Linked DNA regions of Homo sapiens: all the other regions are linked to region 1. The links come from fine-mapping of genetic effects on gene expression. A gene starts in region 1. Each other region holds a variant in brackets. All regions are shown on one strand. Distances are between the middles of the regions. Region 1 holds the start of UNC13B (unc-13 homolog B). Region 2 overlaps UNC13B (unc-13 homolog B). Region 3 overlaps UNC13B (unc-13 homolog B).

Region 1 (10,566 bases):
AAATGAACTGGAATTGGAAGGACAGGGAGATTGAAGGGTAGCAAGAGAGGCTAGAGAAGAGAGTGAAAAGACCGCTTACCCGATTTGAAGTTGGTAAGGTATTCCTTGAGCTGGTCTGAGGACCCGAGGTCTTAGGTGGATCTCCTCATGGAGTGATGGTGAGGACAGGGGACCTGTCTTCCGAAGGAGTCTCCCTGTCCTGGGTCTTCGGCACCAAATGTCAAGTGCGTCCGTGTGAAGAGACCACCAAACAGGCTTTGTGTGAGCAATAAAGCTTTTTAATCACCTGGGTGCAGGCGGGGTGAGTCGGAAAAGAGAGTTAGCAAAGGGAGTTAGGGTTGGGGCAATTTTATAGGATTTGGGTAGGTAGTGGAAAATTACAGTCAAAGGGGGTTGTCCTCTTGCGGGCAGGGGTGGGGGTCACAAGGTGCTCAGTGGGGGAGCTTTTGAGACTCATTGTCCAGGAGAAGGAATTTCACAAGTTAATGTCATCAGTTAAGGCAGGAACTGGCCATTTTCACTTCTTTCGTGGTTCTTCAGCTTCCTCAGGTCTTCTGGATGTATAGGTGCAGGCTTGGGCTCAGAGGCCTGACACAAACAAAAATGTATGCTGGCAATTCCTAAGACATTTCTAACATTAATGTAACAATAATTTTAAACCTAGCTCAGTGAGGACTAAATTCTGATTTTATATCTTGCTCAAATTCCTGTGTAAGGGGTCTGGGGAGTCATGCGCTACAAATAATAAATTATTAGATGGTTTTTACTTAACCCTATATATTGTGACTTACTTTCCAACCTGACTGTGGCATAACATTATGAGACAAGGAAGCAAAACAAAATATTTTACCTTAAATCATGTTTCTTTGCCATCTATTGAAATGGCCTGCAAAGCTGTCCTTTGTGGGGTAAAATGTGCATATATAAAGAATCTCTATTAACATAGCTAAATCTTTTTCTTTCAGGCCCTCTCAATCCTAAAGAGATTAACTAAAAGTCTAGCACCCTTTGAAGATCTGAATTGGAAATATTTGTCATCTATTTTCTCTAAGGGCAGCCACTATAAGACTTCAAAAGAACCTTGGTCTCCACAGTGTTTTTTCTTAACCTAAATATTTCCTTTCTATGATCCCTGGTCTTTAGACAAACTCAACCAATTTTCAACCAGAAAATGTTTAAATTTACCTATAGTCTGGAAGCCCCCCTTTGAGTTGTTCCGTCTTTCTGGACCAAACCAATGTATTTCTTAAATGTATTTGATTGATGTCTCATGCCTCCCAAAAATTTATAAAACCAAGCTGCACCCCAACTACCTGGGGCTCATGTTCTCAAGACCTCCTGAGGGCTGTGTCATGGGCCATGGTTACTCATATTTGGCTTAGAATAAATCTCTTCAAATATTTTACAGAGTTTGATTTTTTTCATCAACATTAGTAAAGATTTTACTTAAGTTATGTAAACTTGAAAAAGCATTTGACTATTTTATTTTTTCCTGAATAAGTGTTTGATTTAAGCACTTTTATTTTCTTACGCCAATTAATTAGAGCTCTTTTATATATTTTCAGTAGTGAAACATTGTGTACACAACACATAAATACATAGACACATTAGGCATGCTGATAGAGGTACATCTTTTTTTTTTTTTTTTTGAGACAGAGTTTTTCTCTTGTCACCCAGGCTGGAGTGCAATGGCATGATCTCAGCTCACTGCAACTTCTACCCGCTGGGTTCAAGTGATACTTCTGCTTCGGCCTCCCGAGTAGCTGGGACTACAGGCATGTGCCACCACGCCTGGCTATTTTTGTATTTTTAGTAGAGACAGGTTTCACCATGTTGTCCAGGCTGGTCTCGAACTCTTGACCTTAGGTGATCTGCCCACCTCGGCCTCCCAGAGTGTTGGGATTACAGGCGTGAACCACTGCACCTGGCCTAGAGGTACCTCTTATAGATTCATAAAAAACGTTTTTTTTCCTTAGGCTTTCAGATTCTTTTTTTCCCCTCCTCCCTCCCCGCTACTTTCAGATTCTTGATAACCTGTTTCACAACCCTAGGCAGTTGTCAGCTAAATAGCCTTAAATTTGCATATTAAAGAAAACAACTCAGGTGAACTCCAAACAGCAAAATTTACATTATAAAGTGTGGAGAGAAAAAGTCTGGTGTGCTAGACGGAAATTGAAACAGATTTAATGGCCAATTAAACATAAAATTATAGAAATTATAAAAGCCTTTTAAATACACACACACACACATCCTATAGCTTTTACTTCAGAACTTTTAGCTATGAGATAAATTCAAATTTACCGGTTTGCAAAAAGAACTTGTTGGATCTAAACTGTGGTTTTTATCTTAACAGAAAATAATGGCAGATTTAGAGCAGGCAGAAAAGAATAGAGAAAAGAGGTCTTAGGAACTCTATAATTAGTAGGTCGACCTTAGGGCTCTTTTTTCTTAATGTAAATGTGCACAAAGACCATATTTTTTCCATTTTACATAAACTTTGGCAGTAGAGGTGCCATAAAACCTACAGAGTGCTCAAAAGAGGGTCATTCTCCTTGTTTTCTTCTCATTCTTAGATTATTTGTTTTCCACTTCTTTTTTTCTTAAAAGGAGAAACTGAGCTGTGGCTTAGAGTTTCTGTGTGGTGGATCATCACGTGCTGCTTGTGGGCAGGACTCCACAATGTGCCACCACTGAATGGTTTCCACCCTCTTACATGTCTCAGTTTCTCTCTCCAGAGGTTTATGACTTCTGAGAGGGCTCACAACACTGGGTGATCAGCCCTTCAATGTGTTTCCTGGATGAGCCAGTTTTTAAATTAAATATATATATATATATTTTTTTGAGACAAGGTCTTACTCTGTTGCCCCGGCTGGAGTGCAGTGGCATAATCTTGGTTCACTGCAACCTCCACTTTCTGGGTTCGGGCAATTCTTACGTCTCAGTCTCCTAAGCAACTGGGGTTACAGGCACGCACCACTACACCTGGCTAATTTTTGTATTATTAGTAGAGATGCGGTTTTGCTATGTTTGTCAGGCTTGGTCTTGAACTCATGACCTCAAGTGATCTGCCTGCCTCGGCCTCCTGAAATGCTAGGATTATGTGTGTGTGACCGCACCTGGCCTAAATTAATTTTTGTTGGGGATTTCCCTGCAGGACCACTGCACATCGTTCGGGGTCAACCTTTCAGACACTCCCACAAGGTCCCCAGTCACTCAGGGGCACCTTTCAGTTGGGAGGGGCAAATGCCCTTTCTTTTTGGAGCTGAGAAAACTCAGTCTCTGATATACCTATGAAAGCAACAGTTCAGTTCCTCATGCAAATGCACACAGACAAACGGAATTGAGATTAATGTTGGGAGAAAAAGCAATATAAAGGATCCTTCAGAACGGATCTCCAAACTAGAATTAGGATTTTTTTTTTTTTTTGAGATGGAGTCTCGCTCTGTCGCCCAGGCTGAGTGCAGTGGCACGATCTCGGCACAGTGCAACTTCCACCTCCCTGGTTCAAGCAATTGCCCTACCTCAGCCTTCGAATAGCTGGGATTACAGGTGCACACCACCAGGCCCGGCTAATCTTGAACTTGTGGGGTCAAGTGGTCCGCCCGCCTCAGCCTCCCAAAGTGCTGGGATTACAGGTGTGAACCACCGCACCTGGCCTAGAATTAGGATTCTTAAACAACGACTTCCTAGGAGAGAAAATTAAAAAAAAAAAAAAAAAAAAAAAAGGAAACAGCCAAAACCACTTCCTATAAACTGTGCTCAGCCACCCGTAACTTTGTAGCTCTTTTCCAACAATATACACACCAAGGTCAAATCCTCTCACAGTGCAAGGTCATCTCTGGCACCCAAAGCCAAAAAGGTCAGGTCATGCAATACAGGAAAACAGAGCTTTAGACCTAAGAAGAATCTGCCCATGACTCTTGAAATCCCACAAAGCCAAGAGAACACCCCAAAAGGGGGTGAGTGGCACCTTTGTTCTAAATTCTTTTTTTTTTTTTGAGATAGAGTCTTGCCCTGTCACCCAGGCTGGAGTGCAATGGCACGATCTCAGCTCACTGCAACCTCCGCCTCCCAGGTTCAAGTGATTCTCCTGCCTCTGCCTCCTGAGTAGCTGGGATTACAGGCACGTGCCACCATGCCTGGCTAACTTTTTTTGTATCTTTAGTCGAGACAGGGTTTCATCATGTTGGCGAGGCTGAGTCTCGAACTCCTGACCTCGTGATCCGCCCACCTCGGCCTCCCAAAGTGCTGGGATTACAGGCGTGAACCATGGCGCCCGGCCTAAATTCTTTAAAGAGGTTCAAGTCATTAGAAGCCTTCTCTCGATTTTTTGGTAATGCAGATGGCAAAGGGTGAAGGAGGTATAGGGTGGAAGAAAAGTAAACAAAAGAACAATTGAATTTTTTTTTTTTTTTTTTTTAATTTGAGACAGAGTCTCACACTGTAGCTCAGGCTGGAGTGCAATGGCTCGATCTCCACTCACTGCAACCTGCGCCTCCTGGTTCAAGCAATTCTCCTGCCTCAGCCTCCCGAGTAGCTGGGATTACAGGCACCCGCCACCATGCCCGGCTAATTTTTTTTGTATTTTCAGTAGAGACAGGGTTTCACTATGTTGGCCAGGCTGGCCTTGAACTCCTGACCTCGTGATCCGCCCGCCTCGGCCTCCCAAAGTGCTAGGATTACAGGTGTGAGCCACCGCGCCCGGCCTAAGAACAGTTTAATTTTTAAGACCAGGAAGCAAACACAGAAACCAAATACATGGTTTTTTGTTTTCTGTTTGTTTTTTCTTTTGCAGCTGTGAGGAATTTTACTCAAATTAGATAGGCCTTGTTACCCATAATTTGGAATTCTCACTTGGATTTGACCAAGTGAAGTAGAGTTGGTCAATGGGAAAAAGACAAACAAAATAAAAAAAAACCCAACAATATGATCACTGAGCACTCTAATGGTAAGCAGAAATTAAGACCAGCTGGTTGTTAACTTTAGCCAAGACAAAAATCCCTATTCAGCTACTTACCTAGGGGTGCGTCTCAGGCTGAAAACGGCTGTCTACCATCCCAGAAGTAGGAAAAAAACCCCTCATCTTCCCTGTTGGAAGTGAGCTCAAACTCCATAAAAGAGTTACCTGCCTTCCCTCGTCATGGAAGCAGGAAAACTTGCCTTCCTTGTTGGAAGCAAGTAAAACTCCAAAATAATAATAATAATAATAATAATAATAATAATAATAGAGGGAGTTGTACAACAAAATGAACTTTAGATCTCGACCAAATTTTGGGAGATCAGGGATTCTCTGGAGGGGGTGCTCCTAGACCTTAGCAAATTGTCCTGTTGGTTTGAGCCATGGAGTTAGCTCATGTTGGTACCAAGCATGGATAGGAGATTTGTCAAAGATCAGAGGTATCTCCACTCACAATCCCTCCGTGGTTACCATCCTTCATTCAGTAAATATTTACGGACTGATTACCATACACTAGGCACTATTCCAGACATTGGAGATACAATGATGAGCATAAAAAACGGTCTAGATAAGAACTGAGGTCTCCAGACATACTTTATGCCCACTCAGTTTTGTCTTTTGCCCTAGTTGCTAAACAAAACTTAACTTTGCTGTGCGGTGCGACTTCGTTAACTTAAAATTACAGGCTGTCAGCTATGACCGCTAGACTCTAAGAAAGTCCAGTGGAAATCCTTCAATGAAAAGAATCTGTTCTTGGGTGGAAGCCCCGCTCATGCAGGAGGAACAGAGGGCTTCCATTCTCGCGTCACACAACTGAGGGTCAACCCCTTGCTCCCTGCAGTAAGCCTGATTAGTGGGCGGAGCTTCCTTCAGGATCGCAAGAAAGAAAGGAGGAAGGGGACCCCGCCTCCTACGTGCTCGCGGGGGGGGGCGGGGTCGGTGGACTGGGCGTGAGTTAATTGGCTGGGGGGCGGGGCACCACGGGTTGGCTCCGCCCAGGCGCTCGCGCGGATCCCGGGTGGAATGACGGGAGGGAGTCCCGGCAGCTCCTACCTCCCAGCGATGGCGTCGCTGTGCCGCGCCCAGTCCCCAGCCTGCCGGCCGGTACTCACCGCTACCCGGAGTTCGCTCAGACGGTGAGATTTGGGGCGGGTCCGAGGCAGCGGCGGGACGCTACCTGCGACCGGGACCATGAGGAGCTGCCAGACCCGTGGGGCCGGTAACGAGAGCAGTCGCGGCACCTGCTGAGAGGAAAGAGGGAGCGGTCCGGCGCGGCTGGGGCGCGGCAGAGGCTTGCCCGATCCTCGGCCATGTCACTGCTCTGCGTGCGCGGTGAGTGCGCGGACTGAGGCGGGGAGGCGGGGTGTCGGCGTAGAGGTCCCCGCACCCTTCCAGTGGACGTCCGGTGACCGTCTCACCCAAACTTTACATCCCGTCCGTGCTTTGGGGGTCTATTATTTTGGCAATCACTTAACAATCACTTGAGTTCTTTCCACTTTCTTGTTTTCCCCCAAGCTCCTGCAAGGGACGATTAGCTCTCCATTCTGGTAGCCATGTGACAATGTTGTTGGACTGCAGGCTCAGATCCTATTAAACAGTGACTGGGGTTCTCTAGTGAGAGTGGACGAGTTAGAAGACCGCGGATGGTTGGTGCCTGTGAATGGTGGGCAGCCTCTCATTCTTTTCCTCCTCCTCGCACCGTAACGCTACAGTATGCTTAGTAGCAGGTTCTTTTTATCACACTTTGAATGCGTTAGTGGTACAGCTGTCACATCCCTTCTATTGCTTGTCTTGTCCCCTGCCACTTCCCTGAACACTAACCGGTAGTATAGGCTAAGATTATTCTTCTGTTCCACTTGGGAGGATGTGGTGACTGCTTTTGAGGATAAGAGGTATGATTTATTTTTATTTTTATTTTAGCTTGCCTCACAGTAACTCAAGGTGAAGGGCCATTATTGCTTTTCCCCTGAGGACACTTGACCCATCTAAGAAGATATCTTAAAGCAAGAGCTTTGGGGTTTAAGATGAGGCATGGTACGCGAACTAAGTTCTATGTGGGTAGAGACTGTTTCTTATTAGTTTTTGTATTCCTGGTGTCTGACGTAGTAGAAGCTTAATGCTGGTTTTGAATGAATGCAAGTACTGTGACTTCAGAGAGATTATCTGATCAGGAAAACACAGGGTTTGGATTAGCCATTGAATTTGATCTCGGGAAATTCAGGTTACAGCCTATCATATCTGATGTGTCTTGATTATGAATGAGAGAGCATTTATCAACTAGAGCCTTTACCTGATATCTTTTACTGGAGAGTTCATATTTCTTTTGGCTCTACAGATTAGAAGCATTGTTGTTGTTTGTGATTTCTCCAATAACGATGTTTCCCCCAGCTACTGGCAGATGAAACTGCTTTGCTCTGTTCTCTTCCACTATTTTGTTGAATCTGCATTAACCAAAATGGATTTGGCCATTTCCCGGGATTATGAGATATACAGTTTTTCTTCTTTCATGGTTGATTTTTCATTAATGAGAATTTTGCTTTGCTTTTAGTAAGACATTTTCTCTCAGCAGCTGGGAATCTATTTATTCCTTTAGATCCCTGCTGCTGAGTAGCAGGATTTGGGAGAGGTTGGACTTTGCTGTGTCTCTTGGACAGTTTAATTCTCTACGGCCACACTGTATTACAGAGCTGGTCCTTATGAAAGACTCTTTAGGCAGGAGCACTCGTGAATCAGAAATTCCTATTTAACTGAATTTATATAACTACTGGTGTTTTCATTTGTTTTAATAGCAGGCAGGTTTCATTGTCTAGAAATTCTGCTATTTAGCTAACTTCTTTCCTTTTTAATGTTACTTTAGTGAAGTTTCTTCTTTTTTGAATCTGGAGAAACGAGATCAGCAGGCCATTGTCTTTTTGAATAGAGATCTAGAAGATTTTAAATACTGAAACAAACAGGTACCTTATATGCAGATATTCATATTGAATGGCAAAGTATTCATTTTGGGAAAACTTACAGAAATGAATTGAAATACATCTTTATTTTTATTTCTTTTTCTTTTTTTGAGACAGAGTCTCATTCTGTCACCCAGGCTGGAGTGCAGTGCTGCGATCTTGGCTCACTGCAACCTCCACCTCCTGGGTTCAAGTGATTCTCATGCCTCAGCCTCCCGAGCAGCTGGAATTACAGGAGTGAACCACCAGGCCCGGCTAATTTTTGTATTTTTTGTAGAGACAGAGTTTCACTGTGTTGGCTAGGCTGGTCTTGAACTTCTGACCTCAAGTGATCCATCTGCCTTGGCCTTCCAAAGTGCTGGGATTAGAGGCATAATCCACTGCACCCAGCACAAAATACATCTTTCTAAAATGACATTCCTTGCGTTGTATTTTGGCAGTAGGAATGTTGTATTCTGAAAGCAGTCTATATAGTGATATTTATTACAACTCAATTTCAATTCATCTTGGAGTAGAATCAATTAGAAACTTCCTATGCAGAGTTCAAAAAGTAGTTAACTTGATGTAGAAATTGGCAAACTGGTATTGAATTAATCATTCCTAAACATTTCATTCAAGAAGTCAGTTATTTTGTCTTGCCCTTTAATCATGCCTTATTGCCTGCAGGTTTAAGGCTCTCAATACTCTGACTCCAGACTTGTGGCCTTCTATTCTTGCCTATCCTTATGCAGACTTTGCTCTAGCACTAACTTTGTTTATTCCTGCCTCTGCTCTGTTCTGCACTTGTGCCCCCTGAAATACTCGTTCCATATTTTCTGCCTATCTAAAATGTATTCTTACTTTCCCAGCTAACAGTCTACTTTTTTTGTTGTTGAAAACTTCTTCAGGTCCCCAGTCCACAGTGATCTCTTTTTCCTTTAAATCCTCGGAGCACTTGTGGTCTGAACAGTGCCACTAGTTTGGAAATGAATCATATGCTGCCTGCAACTGGTCTTGTATTGTGGTGCTTATGGTGACCCAGACAAAGGAAGTAATTGCACTGGTCAGATCAGATCTGGAATTTTGTGTTCAGCTGTGGTATTTCCTTCTAAGAAGCATATTGAGAAGCTAGGTTATCTTAAGAGGGGAGTGATTAGAATAATGAAACATGTAGGAACCGAACCATTTGAAGAATATGGGAAATTTAGTTGTAGAAGATTTAAGAGGAAGAGGATCACGATAGTACATGAAGACTGTTTAAAAAACTGTCTTGTAGAAGTTATGTCACCTTTTTTGTTGTCATTCCAGAGGACAGAACTGGGACAAGTGTGGATCAGTGGTTGAAAATGACAGGAAATTAGATTTTAGCTTAACATAAAGAAGAACAGTTGGGTTGTTCAGAACAAATGGAATGGGCTATGTAGATTTTTTGACACTAAACAGAAATTGAATGAGTGGTAAGGATTCTAAAGGGGATATTGACCATTCAGCGGGTGATTGACTTGAATTTTTTTTTTTTTTTTTTTTTAATTTTTTGAGATGGAGTCTCTGTTGCCCAGGCTGGAGTGCAGTGGCATGATCTCAGCTCACTGCAACTTCTGCCTCCCAGGTTCAAGCGATTCTCCTGCCTTAGCCTCTGGGGTAGCTGGGATTACAGGCGCCTGCCACCATGCCTGGCTAATTTTTTGTATTTTTAGTAGAGACGGGGTTTCACCATGTTGGCCAGGCTGGTCTCAAACTCCTGACCTCGTGATCTGCCCACCTCGGCCTCCCAAAGTGCTGGGATTACAGGCGTGAGCCACTGCGCCCGGCCTAGACTTGAATTTTTAAGAAACCACTCTTTTATAGAATTCACTTAGTCTTTCTTTAAATATTTCCATAAGTATAAAGAAATATAAGTCTTTAACATGTTTTGGCACAGCTTTACTTATAATACGGATACTTTTTTTGGGCTTCCATAGGGACCAGTGCCACATGAACAACTGCAGTAAACTAAATTAAGGATTTTGTTTGACTTTTATTGTCTTGGTATTCACGACCAAGTTTCTCCAAGCAATTATAAGCATTTTTAGAATCAGACCTTTCCATAATATTTCTCTGTAATTCCCAGTGTTTATAACATAGTTATTCCCAGTGTTTATAACATAGTTAGATAATTTAACTATGGATTTTTTTCCCCCAAAAGTAATAAATGCAGGCCAGTCGTGGTGGCTCTTGCCTGTAATCCCAGCACTTTGGAAGGCTGAGACAGGTGGATCACTTGAGGACATGAGTTTGAGACCAGCCTGGCCAACGTGGTGAAACCCCATCTCTACTAAAAATACAAAAATTAGCCAGGTGTGGTGGTGCTCACCTGTAATCCTAGCTACTTGGGAGGCTGAGGCATGAGAATTGCTTGAACCCAGGAGGCAAGGTTGCAGTGAGCCAAGATCATGCCACTGTACTCCAGCTTGGGTGACGAAGTGAGACCCTGTCTCAAAAAAAATATGTGTATGGTAATACATTGCTAATTATAGAAAATTTAAAAAATGCAGAAAAGTACAAAAAAAGAAAAAAATTTCCATGGGCCTACCACCTGCCAATACCATTGCTAACTTTTTTTTTAAATTTAATTTTTTTTTTAAAGATGGGATCTCACTATGTTGCCTAGGCTGGATTTGAACTCCTGGGCTCAAGTGA
Region 2 (10,566 bases), 110 kb after region 1:
GTTTGACTGTATTTGGACATAGGACCTGTGAGGAAGTGATAAAAGTTAAATGAGGTCATAAGGATGGAGCCCTAATCTGACAGGGCTGGGGCCCATTTAAGAAGAAGAGACACCAGAGCTTGCTCTCTCCACCATGTGAGGACACAGCAAAAAGGTGACCATCTGCAAGCCAGGAAGAGACTGTTCACCAGAAACCAAACCTTATGGGAACATTGACCTTGGGCTTTCCAGCCTCAGACTGTGAGAAAATAAATTGTTGTTGTTTAAGCTCCCCAGCCTATGGTATTTTGTTATGGCAGCCTGAGCAGATGTATACACTATGTAAATGCATCTATACAATTATAAGAAAAATTACTAGGAAAAGAATGATCAAAATATTAACCAAATTTGTCTCTAGGATATGGGATTGTGGCCTTAAATTTTTTTTAATAGTTAAAAGTTATTATTGGCCAGGCACAGTGGCTCATGCTTGTAATTTCAGCATTTTGGGAGGCTGCAGCGGGAGGATGGCTTAAGGCTGAAGTTCAAGACTAGTCCAAGCAACATAGTGAGACCCCCATCTCTACAATTAAAAACAAAGTTATTATTAAGAAAAGTAATTGAGTTCTTGTTCATTCTTTTTCCTTTTTTTGCGATGGAGTCTCTCTCACTCTGTCACCCAGACTGGAGTGCAGTGACACGATCTTGGCTCACGGCAACCTCCGTCTCCCTGGTTCAAGTGATTCTCCTGCCTCAGCCTCCGAGTAGCTGGGACCACAGTCATGTGTCATCACACCCGGCTAATTTTTGTATTTTTGTTGGCCAGGCTGGTCTTGAACTCCTGACCTCAAGTGATCTGCCTGGCTTGGTCTCCAAAAGTGCTGGGATTATAGGCGTTGAGCCACCAAGCCCAGTTGAGTCCTTGTTCTTAACCTGGGTTTGCTGCTCTCTCTCTGTGACTTTGGAAGTCATCCCACTGTTAACTTCAGTTTCTTGAAGTAATAAATGGAGGTGGTGTTCTAGATGATCTCTAGGACTTTTCCAGCTGTAGCACATCATATGACTCTATTACTTCCTAGTCCTCAGATTCCTTCATGTGGATGGCCCCTCCACTACCCAGTGTGTTAGGATCAATCCTCTGCGGCCATTTATAAGATGTTTCCAAAGTATTTTCAGAAATCACTGGGCTACTGCTCTAAAGAAACTCTCCCTTTGATACAAGAGTTACTGTGGCTGGAAGTGGTGGCTCATGCCTGTAATCCCAGCACTTTGGGAGGCCAAGGCAGGAGAATCACTTGAGGCCAGCAGTTTGAAACCAGCCTGGGCAACATAGCGAGACCCTGTCTCTATTTAAAAATAAATAAGTTTAAAAAGTAAAAAAATAAAAGGAGTTACTCTAGCCCCAGTTATTTGGATATACTCTTAAAGGTGATGGGATTCTTTAAAAGTATTGAGGCAAACTATCTGCTTTTCCCCTTTGTCTCAGGTCAAGCCTTTCTCTTTTAGCATTCAGTAACAACATTCTGCATTCACTTTTATCCTGTGAAGTTTTTGTCTCATTTGGTAACTGATATATTTATTTTAAAATGTTGTAGGGTAATTATTGTGATTTATTATGTCCATCTGTTTTTTATCCCCCATTTTATTACCATTTCTAGCATTTAGGCTGACTTGTGCCCATTTCTTGAAAGAAAGGTAAGGCAGAGAGCAGAAGAAGTGATCTTTGTGGTTTTAACTTCCCAAAGCCTAAGATTTTAGGAGAGTATGCAAAGTGTTCTGGACAAATATTATGAGAGGGAGCAGAGTTTCACCTGAATCTCCCAATTTCTAAGAAGAGCTTCTTTTGACTTGAATGAGAGGAGAGAAATGCAAGAGAATGAGGAGAGAAAGAAAGAAAGTGACCAGGGGAGATACATTGGGACCTTGTGTCTGCTTTCTGTGTTAGGGCACTGGTGAAGCAGCAGGAGTCAAAGAGGGGATGGCTAGGTGTTGTGTCTTAGGCAGATGGACCATCACAAAGAGATTCCTATGCTCCAAGTTGCACTTGCTCCAAAATGAGTCTTGGGCTTTCTAGAAGTGGGAAAGTGAGCCTCTGGTCCTATTGGAACCACTTGGGCAGGAATAAGAAATGTCTCTCTCAGAAGTGTTCTCTGTGTCCGAGTGACTAAGGACTGGAGGAGACCTGGACTATCTTGATGAATGCCAGTTCACAAAGACACATCCATGCCATGGGCAGTCACTTCACTGCAGTGTCTTTTTAAAAATTATTATGCTTTAAGTTCTGGGTTACATGTGCAGAAACACTGCAGTATCTTATTCACATGCTGTGTCAGTATTCAGAGCAGTCTTCATGGGACAGGGGCAAGACTTAGGTTGAGACTGAAGGATGAATATGTCTTCTAAGAGTGATAACATTAGTTTTCCTAGGAGACATATTGATCTCTTTGTTGGTGGTTGTTGCCTCTCTGGCTGATATTGCTTGGTTGTTCCTGCCCTCTGAGGTGTAGGTGAGTGCTGGCTTTCTCAATGGGGTGCAGGTGTGAGTCTCCAAAGGTTACTTTTGGGGACTCCCTGGGGTCTTATGTGAGTGATTGCTCTGGTTCAACTTCTTTTGTCCTGCTATTGACTACTACCAAAAGATGTACTTAGCTTGTTGCTGCTGGTATCCTGTTACTTAGAGGCTTCTTGAATGGGGAAATATCAAGATAACTGGGACTCACCCACATTCCACAGAATTCACATGACCCATGGGAACTCAATTATTCTTGCCCTGAGAAACAAAGGATATAGGCAAGCAGTTCCATTCTCTTCTCTGTCTCCCAGCTCTGCCTCCTCTGTTCTTTTTGGCTGCTTAGAAAAGTACACAGTTCACATCAGCAAGTCTCCTGTCCAAGCAGACATCCAACCTGTCTGGCTCCACTCCCATTCTTGTAGGCATCCCTAACCTTTGTGAATTATGAAGCTCCTCCTCACTTGGATTCAGAGCAGAAAAACATTCGTTTTTCCCCTCCCCAGGAGGTGGAGAGGGGAAGGAGTGACCTCTCTTCACCAACAATTGCTCTCCCAAAGGTTGCTGGGTCCCACATTGACATAGACATTCTACAAGACAGCTGACAAGGATCTAGTTAAATTGTCTTAACAAAATTTCCTGGTTGGGCACAGTGGCTCACGCCTGTAATCCCAGCACTTTGGGAGGCTGAGGCAGGCAGATCATGAGGTCAAGAGATCGAGACCATCCTGGCTAACACAGTGAAACCCCATCTATACTAAAAATACAAAAAATTAGCCAGGTGTGGTGGCGGGCACCTGTAATCCTAGCTACTCGGGAGGCTGAGGCAGAAGAATTGCTTGAACCCGTGAGACGGAGGTTGCGGTGAGCCAAGATTGCACCACTGTACTCCAGCCTGGGCGACAGAGCGAGACTCTGTCTCGGAAAAAATTTCCTAAAATCTGGATTTGTCTGATTATTTCCTCGTAATTAGATTCAGGTTACTGCACAGCTGATGTCAATTTGTCCCTTTATTTGTGATGCTGATGTTAATTATTAGTTCAGATGATGTTTTCCAGATCTCTTTGTTGCAAAGATATTTTTCTCCTTTGTAACTAAGTGTGTAGTGGCAGTGATACTTTGAGACTGTGTGTATACTGCTTTTATTTAAATAAACTTCCATGCATTAGTTTTAGGATGTATTATGATCATTGCCTAAATTTATTATTACACTGTGGTTGCAAAATGATGATTTTCTAATTCTGTCATTCTTTTTTAAAAGGAAAAAATGGTTTCTCTATACTTGCACAATTCTGACACCAAGTATGTTTTCCATACCAAGCAATTCTCTGCTAACATCAACTGAGTGTCTCATGACTTAATTCTGACACTAGAGATGTGGAGTTAGTGCAGACCCTACAGGTTAAGGGCTCAGTCCCACAAGACTGCCTCCCACTTTAGAGACCAATCATAAATCCCAGGTTACTGCCTGAACTTCTGACCAACTGGCTATAAACTGGAGTTCCCACAAGCCCCTCCTCAGGTTCAATAATTTGCTAGGATGGCTCACAGAACCCAGGAAAACAGTTAATTTGGTATTACCGATTGATTAAAAGGATATTTTAAAGGATACAAACAAATAGCCAGATGAAATGATACATTGGAGGAAGTCCAGAAGGGTCTGAGCACAGGAACTTCTGTCCCTGTGGAGTTTTGGGTGCACTACTCTCCCTGTGGGTGCATTTTTGTTCACCAGTGTGGAAACTCTCTAAACCCCTTTGGCTGGGGTTTTCACGGACACATCATTATGTAAGTATGATTGGTTAAATCATTGATCATTGATGATTAATTGGCTCAACCTTCAGCCCCTCTTTTCTCCCTGGAGTTTGTGGGGTGGGACTGAAAGTTCTAACCCTCTAATCACAAAGTTGGTTCTTTTGGCAACTAGCCTCCATCCTCCAGGAGTTATCACATTAGCATTAACTCAGGTATGATTGAAAGGGGCTTACTATGAATAACAAAAGACAGTCTTATCCCTATCACTCAAGGAGTTAAAAGGGTTTTAGAAGCTCTGTGCCAAGAACTGCAGGCAGAGACCAAATATTTATTTCTTATTGTGTCACACTGTTATTATACTGAACAGTTG[T/C]CAGTCTTTTGTAAAGAAGAGCTTTCCTTCTTCGCATACCCCCACCCCTCTTTTAAAATGAGTATCACTATGGACACATGATTTTTTTTTTTGAACCCAGTGTTTTGTAATCCTGTTCTGCCATTTTCTTTGATGCTCAAATTGTCCTGAATTTGGCCTATGGGTGTTCCTTTTAACTAGATCCTGTGTCCTTTTGACATGGCCCTATCATTCTTTGACCACTTCCTTCCTTCCTTAGTACAAAATATTCCAAGCTCATCTTGTACTTTGCCTTCTCAGTCCTAGAATAAGTCATTTCTCCAATGAGGCTGGTTATTTTTAGTGGGGAATGGTATTTAAAAATCAAGATCTTGGCACTAGTTTTGCTCGTTGCTACAGGAGGGCTCTTGCTTCTTGGCTCTTTGGATGGAACTAGGGAACACACTATGTTCTTCATACTGGTATCACCAATTAACACCCTCATCACAAGGTTTTCCTGGTCTCCTTTCATATATTCTCTCTCTCTCTATGTATATATATGTGTGTGTGTGTGTGTGTGTGTATGTATGTGTTTGTGTATTATGCACATATATATACACATATATACACACATGTGTATATACACACACATATACATGTATATCTTCCAGTGAGAACCTCTGTTCCCAAGAACATCAAATTATTTATTCATTTGCTGTGTCCTGTAATGTACACAAACAAATTTTAGGATTAATATACCCAGTGCTATTATCAACAATAAGACAACAGTCTTTAAGATTCTTGAAAGTTTTTTTTTAACCTTAGAATATAAACTCACATAAGATTACAAAACCACCAGCACACCAAAAATTTAACAAAATTTTATAATGTCATCAGTATCTATCCTATATTCAAATATCCCCAGTTTTCCCCCAAACTTTCTTGTCCTTTTTGCACCATTGTAGAAGTTAATCAAGGTTCACACATTGCATTTGTATGTGGTGTGATTTGAGTGAAGATCGTCTTTTTGCATGTGGATTTCCAGTTGTCCTAAGACCATTTGTTAAAAAGGCATTTTCGGCCAGGCACGGTGGCTCATGCCTGTAATCCCAGCACTCTGGGAGGCCGAGGCAGGTGGATCACGAGGTCAGGAGATCGAGACCATCCTGGCCAACATGGTGAAACCCCATCTCTACTAAAAATACAAAAGTTAGCTGGGTGTGGTGGTGTACACCTGTAGTCTCAGCTACTCAGGAGGCTGAGACAGGAGAATGGCTTGAACCTGGGAGGTGGAGGTTTTAGTGAGCCGAGATTGCGCCACTGCACTCCAGCCTGGATGACAGAGTGAGACTCCATTTCAAAAAAAAAAAAAAAAAAAAGGACATTTCTCCCCCCATTAAATTGCCTCTGCATCTTTGTTAAAATCATTCTTACTACCACCACATGTTCCCATTACTTTCCTTCCTTTTAGCAGATTAGATTTTATATATTCACATTAGAAAGTGGATATACTTTCTTTTAGGATATGTTCTTCAGATGTGGCCTCAGCTGGGAGTTGGTAGCAGATGCCAGGAGACGCATGTGGCTTTTTGCATGCTTGAGCCTCAGTACATCATGTTTACTTTTGCAGGTCTTATTGCTCCTCAATTTATAGAGCTGTTCTGAGGCTGTGCAATCTGATTTGCATATTTGATACAAATCTTGCAACAAATGGTATCAGTATAATATAAACATTTAGCCACAAGGCTAAATGGTCAGAAGTTGAGCTAGAGGGATAAACTGGTCTGTTCCTTTTCCAAACATACCTAAAGTTTCTAAGGTATTTACACTTCACTCTTCAATAAGGATAATATTTCTACCTATATCTTGTCAAAGAATGTAGCAACACACCATGTTGCCATACCAGTCTGACTACTACTAAATTCAACAACTTTCTGCTCTTTTCAATTTTTATACATGTCTGCCTTGCCCACCCACTGTATTAATGACAGTATCACTGGCTACAATTGAGAATTGAATCAAAAGTGATTTAGCATGTGACGAAGGTTTGGTGAGATGACTACTTACATCAAAACCATCCTGGCCAACGTGGTGAAACTGCTAGGGTGTGTAAATTAGTACAACCTTTCTAACTCAGTGATTTTACTTCTAGGAAGTATTCAAGGAAAATAACTAGAGGTTCAAAGGAAGATTTATGTATAGGTTTTATTTATAATAGTGAAAAATTACAAAGAAAGGAAGAATGGATAATTATGGTATTTCCATATGATGGAATTGTATACTTTTACATAAATTTTTAAGATAGAGGAAATATTTATGTGTATAAGTTCTAAAAAATAGGATCCTAACCTGATTAAGATGATCTCAGTTATCTAAGAAATAAATTATATACATATGTACGTAGAAAAACCACAAGGAAATATAATTTTTTTGTTTTTTTTTTTGGTTGTTTCATTTTGTTTTTTTTGTTTTTTTTTGTTTTTGTTTTTTTTTTTTGAGATGGAGTCTCACTCTGTCGTCCAGGCTGGAGTGCAGTGGCAGAATCTTGGGTCACTGCAACCTTTGCCTCCTAGGTTCAAGCAATTCTCCTGCCTCAGCCTCTCGAGTAGCTGGGATTACAGGCACCTACCACCACACGTGGCTAATTTTTGTATTTTTAGTAGAGACAGGGTTTCACCATGTTGGCCAGGCTGGCCTCGAACTCCTGACCTCAAGTGATCTACCCACCTCGGCCTCCCAAAGTGTTGGGATTACAGGCGTGAGCCACCACGCCCGGCCTGTTTTATTTTTTCTTTATACTTTATTGTACTTTCCAGATTTCCTCCAAAGAACATGCATTTGTTTTATAATAATTTTAAAAGGGATAAATATTTTAAAATAACCCAAGCCTGACAATACAGAAGCAAGTTATTGTAGATTCACTTTTTTAGTTTGAATTTGAGACTTAGTTGAATGATAATTTATTGTTGAGATTGACATAGTTTAGTTCAACAATACCAGTGATTCCTTCACTGAAAATTCCACGTAGCTTTTAGAGTTGCAGTGTACCTTTTATTAATGATATCCCTAAAGCCTCCCTTAACTACTTACCGTGTCTGAAACAAAAAGCTTCTGGGGTCTATGTTATTTCTATATGTATTATGATCTAAAAGATAGCTTGAACTTTTGCTTGAGATATAGCCCACCTTGGAGTTTCAAAGAGATTTTTCTGGTTATCTATTAAGGGTTTGTTTCACTGGTTTTCTTACAGTATTGCCTATAATTAGTGATCTATACAAATCATAAACCAAAATGTCCTGAGTACGAATCATTCTTTTAAATTAGTAAAACGGCATAACCCAACATATTGTTTAAAAATTTTCTTGAAGAATGAATCAGTTCAGAACAGTTGGATGTGAGTCATATCATGAATAACAAGTGACCAAACATTCAGAAGCATTGTCAGTAATATACTGCTTAGTTGCTGGGTTGTGACAAATTATTTGACCACCACAAACTTCAGAAGAATTTCTTTTACCAGCATATCCAAAAGAGGCATGTTTAATAAAATTACTTACCTTTCCTCATTTTCAACTCTTACTGTCAAATGTCCTGGTCCTAGTGTCCATTGCGTTGATATTTGTTGATTCTTAGATGGCAAGCAGTAGGTTTTCAATGCTTTCCACTAGTTTTCAGCCATTAGACCTGATATTCATATTCCTAGTGTGCACCATATTCAAATACTCCTCTTATAGCCTCTTATTATTCTTGGTCTCCATCTAAAACTGTTCACTGCCACTCTATTACCTGTCTTATTTCTAATATTCTACCTGTTAGGGGAGGCAGAGAAATGGGTCATTCTGTATATGTAACTAGGTATTCCCCACTTGGACGATTAGGTTCCTGCCTGCTCTACAAGTGATGATGGTATAATCCCCAACTAAAATCAACCACAAAAAAAACGCTAGGCAGGTACTGCCAGTGCTTCTCTTAGTCTCATTTTCACACCTACCAGAAACAAGACTAGCTTTAGGCCTGTGGGCTGTGTTGGCCGCCTCTCAATGGAGGCTAGGACTTGCTTTCGTAGTTGGGTCTTATAGACTTTAAGTAGAACAGGAAATGTTGTCCACTCGTTTTTGGTCCAGGATACCTTTCTTTTATTCTGGACCCACCACAGCCAGAGGGAGCTGACCCAAGTGGCAATTACTGTGTCAAAGCTTGATCATGTAGAGTATGGGACTATCACTCCACCATTTCATGCCAGAGAACACCATCTTGAGAGGATCTAGTGCTTCCTGACCATCAGACCTAACTACCTCGCACAGCTCCAAGTAAAAAAGAAGCCTGGTTAGAAATCTGGATCTGTATTACTTATTTTCCGTATGACAGTAGCCACCATACTGATAACCCCTGCCTATCAGGAGATATATCTCTTAGAGAGCTTTGTGGCCTCGCACTCTCAACTAGTACTAGCATTCTTTTCTTTTCTTTTTTTGTAGAAATGGGGGTCTCACTATGTTGCCCAGGCTGGTCTCAAACTCCTGGCCTCAAGCTATCCTCTGCCTTAGCCTCCCAAACTGCTGTGATTACAGGTGTGAGCCACCACACCCAGTCAAGAATTTGCATGTCTTACAGATTCAAGAGCATATAGTAGATTAATCCATGTTCCTAATAATGCCTTAAAGAGAACCAGAATCTCTCACCATAATTGAATTTTGAAGGGACAGAACTCAGAAAATCTGTCCTCTGTATCCCCTTATAATGACATGTTCTTATTCTGTGGCAGGCCCTTTGAAGACATTAGGATGGCCTGCTAGGACTTCTGACAGCCTTCATAAAGAATGCCCCACAATGAAATTTGGGGGACAAATGCCAAAGATAATCCTGGGAGACCTGAGAGATTATTGAACTCTCTCCTGATGCCCAGGTTCCTCTGGGACATTGCTACCTTGGGTTTAATTATAAATGTATCCACTTCTTGAAGCCATAATATAATATGTATGCTGTTCACTTAAATTCAGGGCCCTGTGAGTGGGCTATTTAGTCCCTACACCAGCTGGCCTTTGGCTGCATCCAAATTGCAGTGCTCCCCCATAAAAGAGATGTCCAGCTCCATAACTTTCCCAATCATTTTTTGTCATACTGTGAAATCATACTTCAATAGATATCATGGGTTTGGAGCTTTTTGTTCAGTGTCCTCTAGGTTAAAATTCTGCACTCTCAAAGTCATTTGTGATTTAAAGTTGTAGAATGTATTGGTTTTCTTGTTAGTTTTGAATTCTTTTTTTTTCTTTTCTTTACCTTGGCTGGATAAAGTTATGAATTCTTGATGGCCACTTTGCATGGTATTGTGAAGAGCAGCTCAGAGTCTTTTTTTCTCCCAAGTCTCCCAACCAGTTATCTTTTTCTGCATCACTTGTTTCTAGGAAATGGGTAAACTAGAGTTAAAACTTTGGTCAGCTTGACTCAAATGTCTGTGTTCTTTCCGCTATACCACCACCCTGTGGTGGCAAAAATCTCATGGGATATAATTTGCCATTCAGAAATATGTGCTTTTCTTACGTGGCTACTGCCCTTTGTTTTAATTAAAATTAATTCATTTATTGAATAGGTAATATACTTTGTATAGGAGTTTTAAAATATTAAAGGGAGTATAGTAAAAAGTCTCCCTCCTGTTCCTATTCCCCAGCCACTTGGGTCTTCTCCCCAGAGGTAATCATCGTTAGCATTTTCTTGTGAATCATTCAAGAGGTTTTACTGCTGTTCGAATATACAGGTATATACATTAGAGAGATCTTTTGATTATTCTTTCCATCCTTTGAATTGGTTTTATTTACTCATTCATTTATTCTGAGATGGAGTCTCGCTTTGTTGCCCAGGTTGGAGCGTAGTGGTGTGATCTCGGCTCACTGTGACCTCCGCCTCCTGGGTTTAAGTGATTCCCCTTCCTCAACCTCCTGAGTAGCTGGGATTACAGGCGCCTGCAACCACACCTGGCTAATTTTTGTAGTTTTAA
Region 3 (10,566 bases), 120 kb after region 1:
CAAAATCCTGGCCTTGAGTACAATAGAAATGTTTCCTCTGTCTGCACTCACCCTCCTAGAATGACTTTCACACATTTATTCCTGGGTCAAGAACTTCTGCAGTTTATGTCCATAGAATATGTTAGTTTCCTCACTAATTTTGAATTCGTTGTGGTCACTTTTTGTGGTGTTGTGAAGAGTTATTTTTTTCCTCTTCCAACATACTGAGTCCCTTTCTTATTTTAAACTTTGTAAAAAATAGAAATACGTAACATGGGTACTATAAAAGTCTTCAAATGATTCAGAAATGTGTAATATAGAAAGTGAAAGTACTCTTCAATTTCCCCCTCTATTCCACTCCGGGATAACTAGTCTTCACAGTTTCGTGTATATTCCCCCAACATTTTAATTTTTATTTTTAAAAAATGAGTCAAAAATTTAATTATGCGGTGTCTTTCAATGATAATTGTTTTCCCTCCCACAAAGGCCAAATTGTTCTTTTTGTCTGAATTACAAAAGAATAAATGTAAAATACAAAAGTTTTAGAGCATAATAATGAAACTAATACCCATTAGCCTACCACTCATCATTATCCTTTAGTATAGTTTAGTAATGTACTCAGAAGTTTTTCTTAGATTTATCATGCTCCCTGAGTGACAGTGTTTTCCTTCATATGGGACTGGTGAATTGCAAGTGTAGGGACATAGTCTTTGGTTTCTTAGTTTTGCTGTCTGATATGTTAGGTACTCAGGGAGTGACGCTTGGTTGTTTGCCCCTGAGGGACCTCATCCCATCCAGGTTTTAGGGAAAGACAATTTAACCTTTAGAGGAAAAAAAACAATGATCATTGAATAAGAGTGTAATTTGCAGTATTTTCTGGAAGATGGCATCCTTTTTCTTTGGGTTGGAAATTTACTTTCTCCAGAGCTTGTAGATTGCTAGAAAGCTTCTGTAATTGTGACTACTAGACTCATATTCAGGCGATTGAGACATGAGTTTGGCAATAGCTAAAGCTTTGTTGGCTATATTGTAAGGTAATTTATAAGCATTAGAATGCTCAGGGGTATCCCTAGTAGAAATGACATTGAAGCAGATGCCAGACAGAGAACTGTCATACTTTTCCTAATTTTTCCTGTGAAGCTTTGAGACTTCAGCATTACAGAAAAGAAATCCAGAGCCCTGAAGTACAAAGGAGCTTATCCATTATAGAGCTTTTCATTTTCTCCTTTGCAAAGGCTTTTATATTTTCTCGGGGGGTTCTTGTTCTTAGTGAGTAGCTATGTAAACCAGGGAGTATATTTGCAGAGGCTAGGAAAGAATTAATGGGAGAATGCAAAAACAATCAAAAGATCTGAATCACAACCTAGACTCAAGTCCGAAGAGGTAAATATACAAAGACAGCAACTTGAATATGTAATTTATAATTACATATTCACATTGTGTACACAGTAATACCATGGAAAGTACCCTCAATGGGTACACAGTAATACCATGGAAAGTACCCTCAATGGGTACACAGTAATACCATGGAAAGAAGGAAAGTCCCGAGGTGGCAAAGGAATAAATAAATGGTTAAGAATGGCATAAAGTTTGTTCAAGAAGGCTTTCCAGAAACATATGTTTAGAAATTACTTTTGAAAGAACTAATCGAGATGTGTTCATTGAAATGAGAGATTGTTCACAGTAGTATAAATGAAAAGAATGAGGAGAGGATTACAAAGATGCAGGACACACTGGCTTAGAGTACAGTGATGTCATAGTTGTACTTGCTAATCTGCCAGAGGAAATGAATCCTCTTGTTGTTGTTGGCCTTCAAAAAGCCAAGATGTACAGGGCTCGCCCAGTTTGGCAGATTCATTTCTTTGGGAGCCTTTTCTTTCTTTTACTCCAGATACGTAGAGTCCTCATTATCATCTATCACCTTCTCTCTGTTTAAATGTGTCGTAGAATTGAAAGTTTTGAGCCGCTTAAGATTTTGGTGGCTAAAATTTTGTTGCTGTGATGGAAGACCTGTTTCTGTGAACACTGGAAGCAGAAGAGCCTTATGATTACTTTTTACTTATTTACCCAGGACCACATGCCCTGCAGGAAAATAGGATTGCATGACCAGCTGGCCTCCACTCTGCAGATTCATCCACTTCTTCAATGTCCTCTATTTCTCCTTCTCATTTTTAAAATCCCAGAAGGCATAGGTCCCCAGGTCATATACTTCTTTTGCCACCTTCTTCTACCTTTTTGCCACTTTTTTTTTTTGTCTGAGCCTTCTATATTGGCTCTTGCATTAAAGCATCCTAATCATTCTGGAGTTCCATAGGTAGCTGATTCTTGTTTATCTTATAAGTAGGATATTTTCCCCATTTTATTTTATTTTTTGAAAGGAAACATGTGCATAAGGTACAAAATTCGATGTAAAAATGTATGCTATGAAAAACAGCTTTTTTTCTGTACCCTGTCCTTTAGCCATACAGTTTCTACCCAGAGGTAACCACTACTGCCATTTACTGTGGATTTCTCTAGAAAGAGTTTATGCATTCACAAACATATAAATATATATTCCCCCACCCCCATGAATGGTAGTATGCTATGAACTGTGTTTAGTGTCTTGCTTTTTATCATATAATATGTATGACTACATGTAGGGAACAGGTTCATAATAATGGACATTTTAAAAATTGAGGTGAAACTCATGTAGCATAAAATAAACCATTTTAAATATATAATTTAGTGACATTTAGTACATTCATAAATTGTAGAACCATTACCTGTCTAGTTCCAAAACATTTTTATCCCCCTCAAAGGAGACCTCATACCCATTAAACGGTCACTCTCCATTCTCTCCACCCCTCACCGCTGGCAACCACTGATCTACTTTCTGTCTCTATGGATTTACCCATTCTCGATATTTCACATAAATGGAATCATATAGTATTAGGCCTTTTGTGACTGGTTTATTTAGCAGCATAATGTTTTTGAGGTGCATTCACCATTGTGGCATGTATCAGTCCTTTATCCCATCTTATGGCTGAATACTAATTCATTGTACAGATATACCATATTTTGTTTATCCATTCATAGTTGATGAAATATGTTTTTTTTTAAACCACTTTTGGCTATTGTGAATAGTGCTGCTATGAACAACAGTGTACAAGTATTTGAATAGCTGTTTTCAGTTCTTTTGGGTATATACTAGGATTAGAATGGCTATTAATGTACATTTAAGTTGCTTCCAGTATTTGCAGTTACAATACTGAAATTGATATTTTATATACATAATTTTATACATGTGTGAATATATCTGTTGGATGAATAGCTAAAAGTGCGATTGCTGGGCCAAAGCATTGTACATTTAACAATGCATTTGAATTTTGAAATATGTTACAGAATTGCCCACTATGGAGGCTGTACTATTTATATTCCCACTTACAAAGTATGAGAGTGCTTCATCTTTCCTTAGCTTTTAGGAATAGTCACCCTTCCTACAAAATTATATTGCAGAGATGGCACACTGAGGATAGCCATAGGCAAACAGTTCCTGTGCCATGATTCACTGAGTCTCCTTTCTGCTTGCCTGCTTATCCTGTCTTTTTCTCCTCTACCATCTGGGCCGTCTGATTTTCTGATTCCCCAAAAAGAGGTCTTGATAACTGGGCCTTTTGTTTAGTGTCCTGGTCAAAGTTCTTCCTCTGGTTTAACTTCTGTCTTTCTGCTTACATGTTAATTTTGGGTAATCCTTTGATTTCATTTTCAATAATAATATTGTGGAAGTAGAGAGGAAAGTGCTGAGGTGACAGAAGAAGAAGCAAATGGTTGAGAATGGTATAAAGTTTGTTCAGGAAGGCATTCTAGAAAAGATGAGTTTCGAGATGACTTTTGAAGAAGTTATTTGCAATGTAAAGTTTGAAAGGAGAGATTATTCCTAGTAGGATAAATGAAAAGTAGGAAGAAAGGGTTCAAAAGGTAACATACTCCATCTCACCCCACTCCCCATGTCCTGGTCAAGGTATCTCTTACTGGCTGGAACATTCTTTTTCCTATTACCTTATCCCATTGGGGAGTGGGAAGTAAAGGATCAGACAGGGTATAGCTTCTGGTACCTCCAGTCTAGGACTAAGACTCTGAGAGACACGAAAATATACTAGTTATGGACTCCTTAGAGTGAGTGCACAGGGAGTATTATTTTAGTGGTAAGGCAGTGCAATGGGTCTAGGACTGTCAGTAAGGGTGGGTGATGAGTTTTACACTAGATATGTGGTATCAGTGGAAGCAGCTGATATTGATGCTAATTATAGGTGCTGGCAAACTAAAAAGAAAAGAGAGAAACTATTACAATATGGTTTGGCTGATAAAAATAATGTTAATTGTAGTCTTCTGACTCATTTATTTATTTCTATCCTGGCTTCCTCTAAAAAGAAATTTGAGGTGGTTAATTGCAGTCATTACATCAACTTATTATAATTTATGTTCAGTTACAATTATACACAATTAACCATGTTAAAAATGTCAGATTAATGTATCAAAGTTTCATTTGCTAGCAACACTTAGGTGTCTATGCTGAGTACAGTGTGTGTTGTATATGCATAAAGGTCAGTTATTACCATAAAAGCGTGGTCATCTGATGGCTTCTTGTTATAGGTTTCATTGGGAGGCTGAGGCGGGTGGATCACGAGGTCAGGAGATCGAGACCATCCTGACCAACATGGTGAAACCCTGTCTCTACTAAAAAATACAAAAAATTAGCTGGGCGTGGTGGCATGCGCCTGTAGTCCCAGCTACTCAGGAGGCTGAGGCAGGGGAATTGCTTGAACCTGGGAGACGGAGGTTGCAGTGAGCCGAGATCACGCCACTGCACTCCAGCCTGGTGACAGAGCAAGACTCTATCTCAAAAAAAAAAAAAAAAAATTAGCTGGGCATGGTGGCACTTTCCTGTAATCGC[A/G]GCTACTCGAGAGGCAGAGGTAGGAGAATTGCTTGAACGCTAGGGGCAGATGTTGCAGTGAGCTGAGATCACACCACTGCACTCGAGCCTGGGAGTGAGAGACTGTCTCAAAAAAAAAAAAAAGAGAGAGAGAGGAATGAAAGTCCCTGACCTCAGGGAGCTCAAGTCCAGAGAGGAAGAAACATAAGTAGTACCATTTGATAAGTGAATGGGAACGTAAGTACTTGATATTCAAGGAATACAGAGAAAGAGAATGTAATACAAATTTGGGATGGTTAGGAACTGCTTCCCAGAGGAAATGATATCTCAAACAAAGTCTGTAGTTTACGTTATGGTTCTCTCTTTGTATTGTACATTCTATGGATTTTGACAAATGTGTGATGACACATATCCACCCTTATAGTATAGAATAGTTACGCTGCCCTAAAAATCTTCTGTAGTTTACCTATTCATTTCTACCTCTCCCCAGATCCTTGGCATAAATTGAGTCTTAAAGGATGAGTAGCAGACAGTTAAGTGAAGAAGGAGAAAAGAGTTCATAGTACAAGGACACTAAGATGAAAAAGCATGACTTAAGGTACCTTGGGGTACTGCAAGTTGAAAATTCTTGATGGCTTCGGTGGAGGGAATAAGAAGAGTGGGGAAGGGTCAGATGAGGCCAGAGAGACACAGAGAACTCATATCACAAAGGGCTTGAATGCCATAGCAAGCTGTTTATATTTTATCTTGAAGGCAAGGGGGAACCTTTGATGACTTTATGCAGAGGAATGAAACAATTAGATAGCAGTGATTATAGTGATGTGAGCAGTTTGCTGCATTAAAAATCTTTTTAATGGTAGAATATAACACAGATATATAGACAACTTTATAAAACAAATGTTTAAATGTATTAGTATAAGGTAGGTAAAAGATAGACCTTTGCCAACCACCCCAGAAAGCCTCCATATGCCTCTTCCCAATCACAACCCCCTCTTCCCTAAAAGTACCTACTATCCCAACTTTTATAATAATTACTCTCTTCTTGTTCTTTATATGTTGTCACCCAAGTATGTATCTTTAAACACTAGAGTTTGTTTTTGCTTGTTTTCTTGTTTTCTCTTTTTGATATGTCTTACAATTTTTTTTGTTTGTTTTGTTTTGTTTTGTTTTTGGGATAGTCTCACTCTGTCACCCAGGCTGGAGTGCAGTGGCTGTGATCTCGGCTCACTGCAACCTCTGCCTCCTGGGATCAAGAGATTCTCCTGCTTTAGCCTCCTGAGTAGCTAGGACTACAGGCACATGCCACCACACCCGGATAATTTTTTTTGTATTTTTAGTAGAGATGGGATTTCACCATGTTGGCCAGGCTGGTCTCGAACTCCTGACCTCAGGTGATCTGCCTGCCTCAGTCTCCCAAAGTGATGGGATTACAGGTGTGAGCCACCATGCCTGATCATGTCTTACAATTATTTTTTATTCTATGGGTTCCCCCTCCGTCTCTTGCTTTTTTTTCCTTACAATTTGTTTATTGAAGAAATCAGGCCATTTGACTATATGGTTTTGTTTGACTTACAGAGTTTTTTACATTCCCGATTTTGCTCAAAACATTCCTATAAGTTTAGCTTAACACACTCTTCTGTCCTTTGTATTTCCTGTAAATTGTAGTTGCACATTGAAGATTGATGATATTGATGCCAGGCATATTCCATAGTTTGAGTATACTATAATTTAAAATTTTTTCCCCAATTTGTAGACATTTGGATTGTTCCCCAGTTTTTGCTGCTAAAACACAATACTATAGTGAGCAACTTTATACACTTTTTTTTGTAAACATGTTCAAATGAATCTCCCATCCTCTATTACACAGTATGTATTTTTCCTCTATGGCACTTTCTCAGTTTGTATGATTATTTGATTAATATTTGTTCCCTTCTTTAGGCCATACATTTCATGAGTATACCCATTGTTCATAGGTATTTTCCTTTGATTTATTAATATGCTTATCTGTGTATCCATAGTACCTTTGCCCAATAAATATTAGTTGAATAAATGCATTTCTATAAGTGGAATCATTGGGTTAAAGAATATATACATTTATAATTTTGTTAGACACTATCAAATTGTATAAAAATATTTTACCTATTTATATTTCTGCTGCTGGTACTTATTTTCACATTTAGCCTCACTGGCCCACTCAACAACACCGTGCCCCCCACCCACCTCTTCACCCCCTCTCCTCTTTTCCTTTTGTTACTTTCTTCTACAAACATTTTTTTGACACTTACATTCCAGGTTTTGTTCTAGGTGTTTAGGATATATCAGAGAGCAAAACAAAGATCCTGGGTGGGAAGAAATAGACAATTAACATAATAAGGAAATAATATAGGATGTTAGAGAGTGAACCAATAAAAGAGTGAAAGGCAGTTGGTAATGCTAGAATTGGAGTTGAGTTGCAATTTTAAATAAAATTCTGAGTATTGGCCACATGAGAAGGTGACATTTCAATAGAGTTGAAATAGGTGAGGGAATTAACGTGGCTCTCTGGGGAAAGAGTGTGATAGGCAGCGTGAACAGCTAGTTCAAAAGCTGGTAGCTACTGAAAAGGAGTAGGAAGAGTTTTGCTGGGTCCTGGGAATGCTGTTTCTTGATCTGTGTGCTGGTTACCTGAGTGTGTTCACAGTATTCATTGAGCAGTACAGGCCGGGCGTGGTGTTTCACGCCTGTAATCCCAGAACTTTGGGAGGCTGAGGCCGGGGGATCACTTGAGGTCAGGAGTTTGAGACAAGCCTGGCCAACATGGTGAAATCCCATCTCTACTAAAAATACAAAAATTAGCCAGGCGTGGTGGCATGCGACTGTAGCCTGTAGTCCAGCTACTTGGGAGGCTGAGGCAGGAGAATTGCCTGAACCCGGGAGGCAGAGGTTACAGTGAGCTGAGATCATGTCACTGCACTCCAGCCTGGTTGACAGAGCAAGATTCTGTTTCAAAAAAACCAAAAAAACAAAAACGTTGAGCAGTACGGTTATGATTTGTATATTTTTCTCTATCTTATACTTCAGTAGAGCTTGCATATTTAAAAATATTAGTGGATGTTGAACATTTCAAAATGCATTAATAGTACTTAACCAATTCATGGATATTTTTCTTTGACTTATTAATATAATGAATGCATTAATCAGTTTCTATTAATAAATCATCTTTGCCTTTCTAAAATATAACCTACTTGGTTATGGTGAATTATTCTTTTACTATAATGCTAGGCTTGATTTGCTTGTATTTCATTTTGGATTTTTCTATCTATATCACAAGTAACGTTGGTGAATAGTTTTTTGTTATTCTCCTATGTTAGATTTGAAGTGTTTTCCTTAATTATAGGTTCTTTACTACTGTCTTCCGTAGAAAGAGAAGTTCTACAGTACTTACCGAATCAACTGTCTAGAAAAAGGGAAGAGAATAATTTCTAGTGTTTGAGTTTATGGTCCTTATGAGATACCTGGTAATTACTACAATTTAGTAGTTGATAGGTGAGTTCCTGTCATTGCCTAGACAGATGGCTGTTCACATGGAGTCTGGGGCTTAAGTATTCCATCATTTTAATGTCATGGAAACATTAGCCAGTACTGGACTACTAATGGGTGGTGTAACAGTTGCCTGGGGGTGTTTTGTTTGATAATTGTAGACCTTACTTTTTAATGTGACTATTTCTGATTTCTTACATTTTCCACTAGAAACAAGATAAAATGTGCAGAAGAAGCAGCCTGTGAGTGTGTTGCTGTAGCCTAGTCAGCCAGCCTAGGGGATGGGGATAAGTGCAGAGGTTTACCTTCTAGGAAAGAGGATGTACTTTCGTCTTAGAACTGCTAGAATTTTTTCACTGTATGATGACATTGAACTTTTCTTCAGGCTCAGTAGGATAGTGGGTCTGGCTGCCTTCTTCCTCCATTAGCACAGGAGTATTATTCTTCTGTCTGGGAGACTGTGGCTTTTTCATATAGGAAATTCTATAGCTGTGTTTTTCGCAATGTAATTCAAGAATCATTGGCATGAGAGTCACCAAGTTTCTTGTTGAAAAGCCCTTTGAATTAGAATCTCTGTGAGTAGAGTTTAAAATTTACATTCTAAACAAGAGCCTCAAGTAATTATTAAAATTAAAAGATGGCCAGGCACATGGTTCACTCCTGTAATCCCAGCACTTTGGGAGCCTGAGGCAGGTGGATTGCTTGAGCTTGGGAGTTTGAGACCAGCCTGGGCAACATGGTGAGACCCCATCTCTACAGAAAACAAAAATTAGTCGAGTGTGATGGCACGTGCCTGTAGTCCCAGCTTCTCAGGAGGCTAGGGTAGGAGGATTGGTTGAGGCAGCAATGAGCCATGATTGTCACTGCACTCCAGCATGGGTGACAGGGCAAGACCTGGTTTCTAAAAACAAATTTTTAAAAAGTCCAGTCAAATATCTGTAATAATTCAGAATAATTCTGTAATCTCTAATAATTCATAAGGTAATAAGTTTCTTGATAAGGATAGTTAAATCTTCAAGGAAAGCACAAAAGGAAGGAGATTTCAGCAGAATTAACTACTAAGTTTGTTGACTGATTGGACATGGGAAATAAAGAGGAATTTTAAGAATGGTCCTGTGGTTTCTGATTTCAAAGTATTGGGAGTTTGGTGGTTTTGGACATGAGGTGTACTTGCTATACTCCCGTATTTCTAGAGAATTTTTAACACTGTAAATACAATGCCATTACCACTGGGGGCTGTGATACTGTGATTTTATAATAAGAAACATATATTTTGGTCTTTGTCCCTGGTTCCTGACACAGAGCTCCTAATCTCTTAGAATTTTATGGATACTAGGAATGTCTGTTGTTCTAATGAGGGACTCTTGATGGGCTTCCACATAGGAACCAGTTATCAGACAGACCAAGCCATGTTTGGAAGCTTGGAACTTTTTTTTTTTTTTTTTTTTTTTGAGATGGAGTTTCACTCTGTCACCCAGGCTGGAGTGCAGTGGCTGTGATCTTGGCTCACTGCAACCTCCACCTCCCAAGTTCAAGTGATTCTCCTGCCTTAGCCTCCCAAGTAGCTGGGATTACAGGTGCCTGCCACCATGCTTGGCTAATTTTTGTATTTTTAGTAGAGAAGAGGTTTCACTATGTTGGCCAGGCTGGTCTCGAACTCCTGACCTCAAATGATCCACCCACCTTGGCCTCCCAAGAAGCCTGGAAATTTTAGCCCCATTCCCTTTCCTTCAGGAAAGGGAGAGGAACTGGAGATTGAGTTAATAATTGATCATGCCAGGTCAGGCACAGTGGCTCCTGTCTGTAATCCCAGCACTTTGGGAGGCTGAAGCAGTAGGATGACTCCAGAAGCTTGAGACCAGCCTGGACAACATAGTGAGGCCCTGTTTCTACAAAAAAATAATACCACTAATACTACTTATAATAGATTGTGTCTATATGATAAAGCCTCCATAAAAATCCCAAAACTGTGGATTTTTGGAGCCTCTGTGTTGGCAAACACATCCGTGTGCTGGGAGGGTGGTGCATCGCAAATCCACAGGGCAGAAGCTCCTGTGCCCAGGACTCTTCCAGACCTTGTTCTGTGTATTTCTTCATGTGGCTGTTCAACTATGTCCTTTGTAATATCCTCTACCGTAGACGGGTAAACATAAGTA

The links. PIP is the estimated chance that this variant, and not a neighbour inherited with it, causes the effect.
Region 2: its variant is fine-mapped to the expression of UNC13B in thyroid (GTEx, PIP above 0.99).
Region 3: its variant is fine-mapped to the expression of UNC13B in whole blood (TOPMed, PIP 0.95).

Annotation. Positions count from the first base shown.
Region 1 is chr9:35,156,017-35,166,582 of GRCh38, forward strand. It overlaps UNC13B (unc-13 homolog B), which reads left to right and starts at 5,993. Exons shown (of 40, transcript NM_001371189.2): 1 at 5,993-6,289. The coding sequence starts at 6,268. LOC124902147 (a long non-coding RNA gene) reads right to left here and starts at 418. Exons shown (of 2, transcript XR_007061469.1): 1 at 80-418. RefSeq lists an enhancer at 1,799-2,352 and a silencer at 5,859-5,988.
Region 2 is chr9:35,265,209-35,275,774 of GRCh38, forward strand. The region is part of intron 7 of UNC13B (unc-13 homolog B); the gene reads left to right. Among named protein-coding and RNA genes, the nearest start is that of UNC13B, 110 kb to the left of the region's middle. The variant T/C (reference allele first, on the strand shown) is at 4,614.
Region 3 is chr9:35,276,389-35,286,954 of GRCh38, forward strand. The region is part of intron 7 of UNC13B (unc-13 homolog B); the gene reads left to right. Among named protein-coding and RNA genes, the nearest start is that of UNC13B, 120 kb to the left of the region's middle. The variant A/G (reference allele first, on the strand shown) is at 4,913.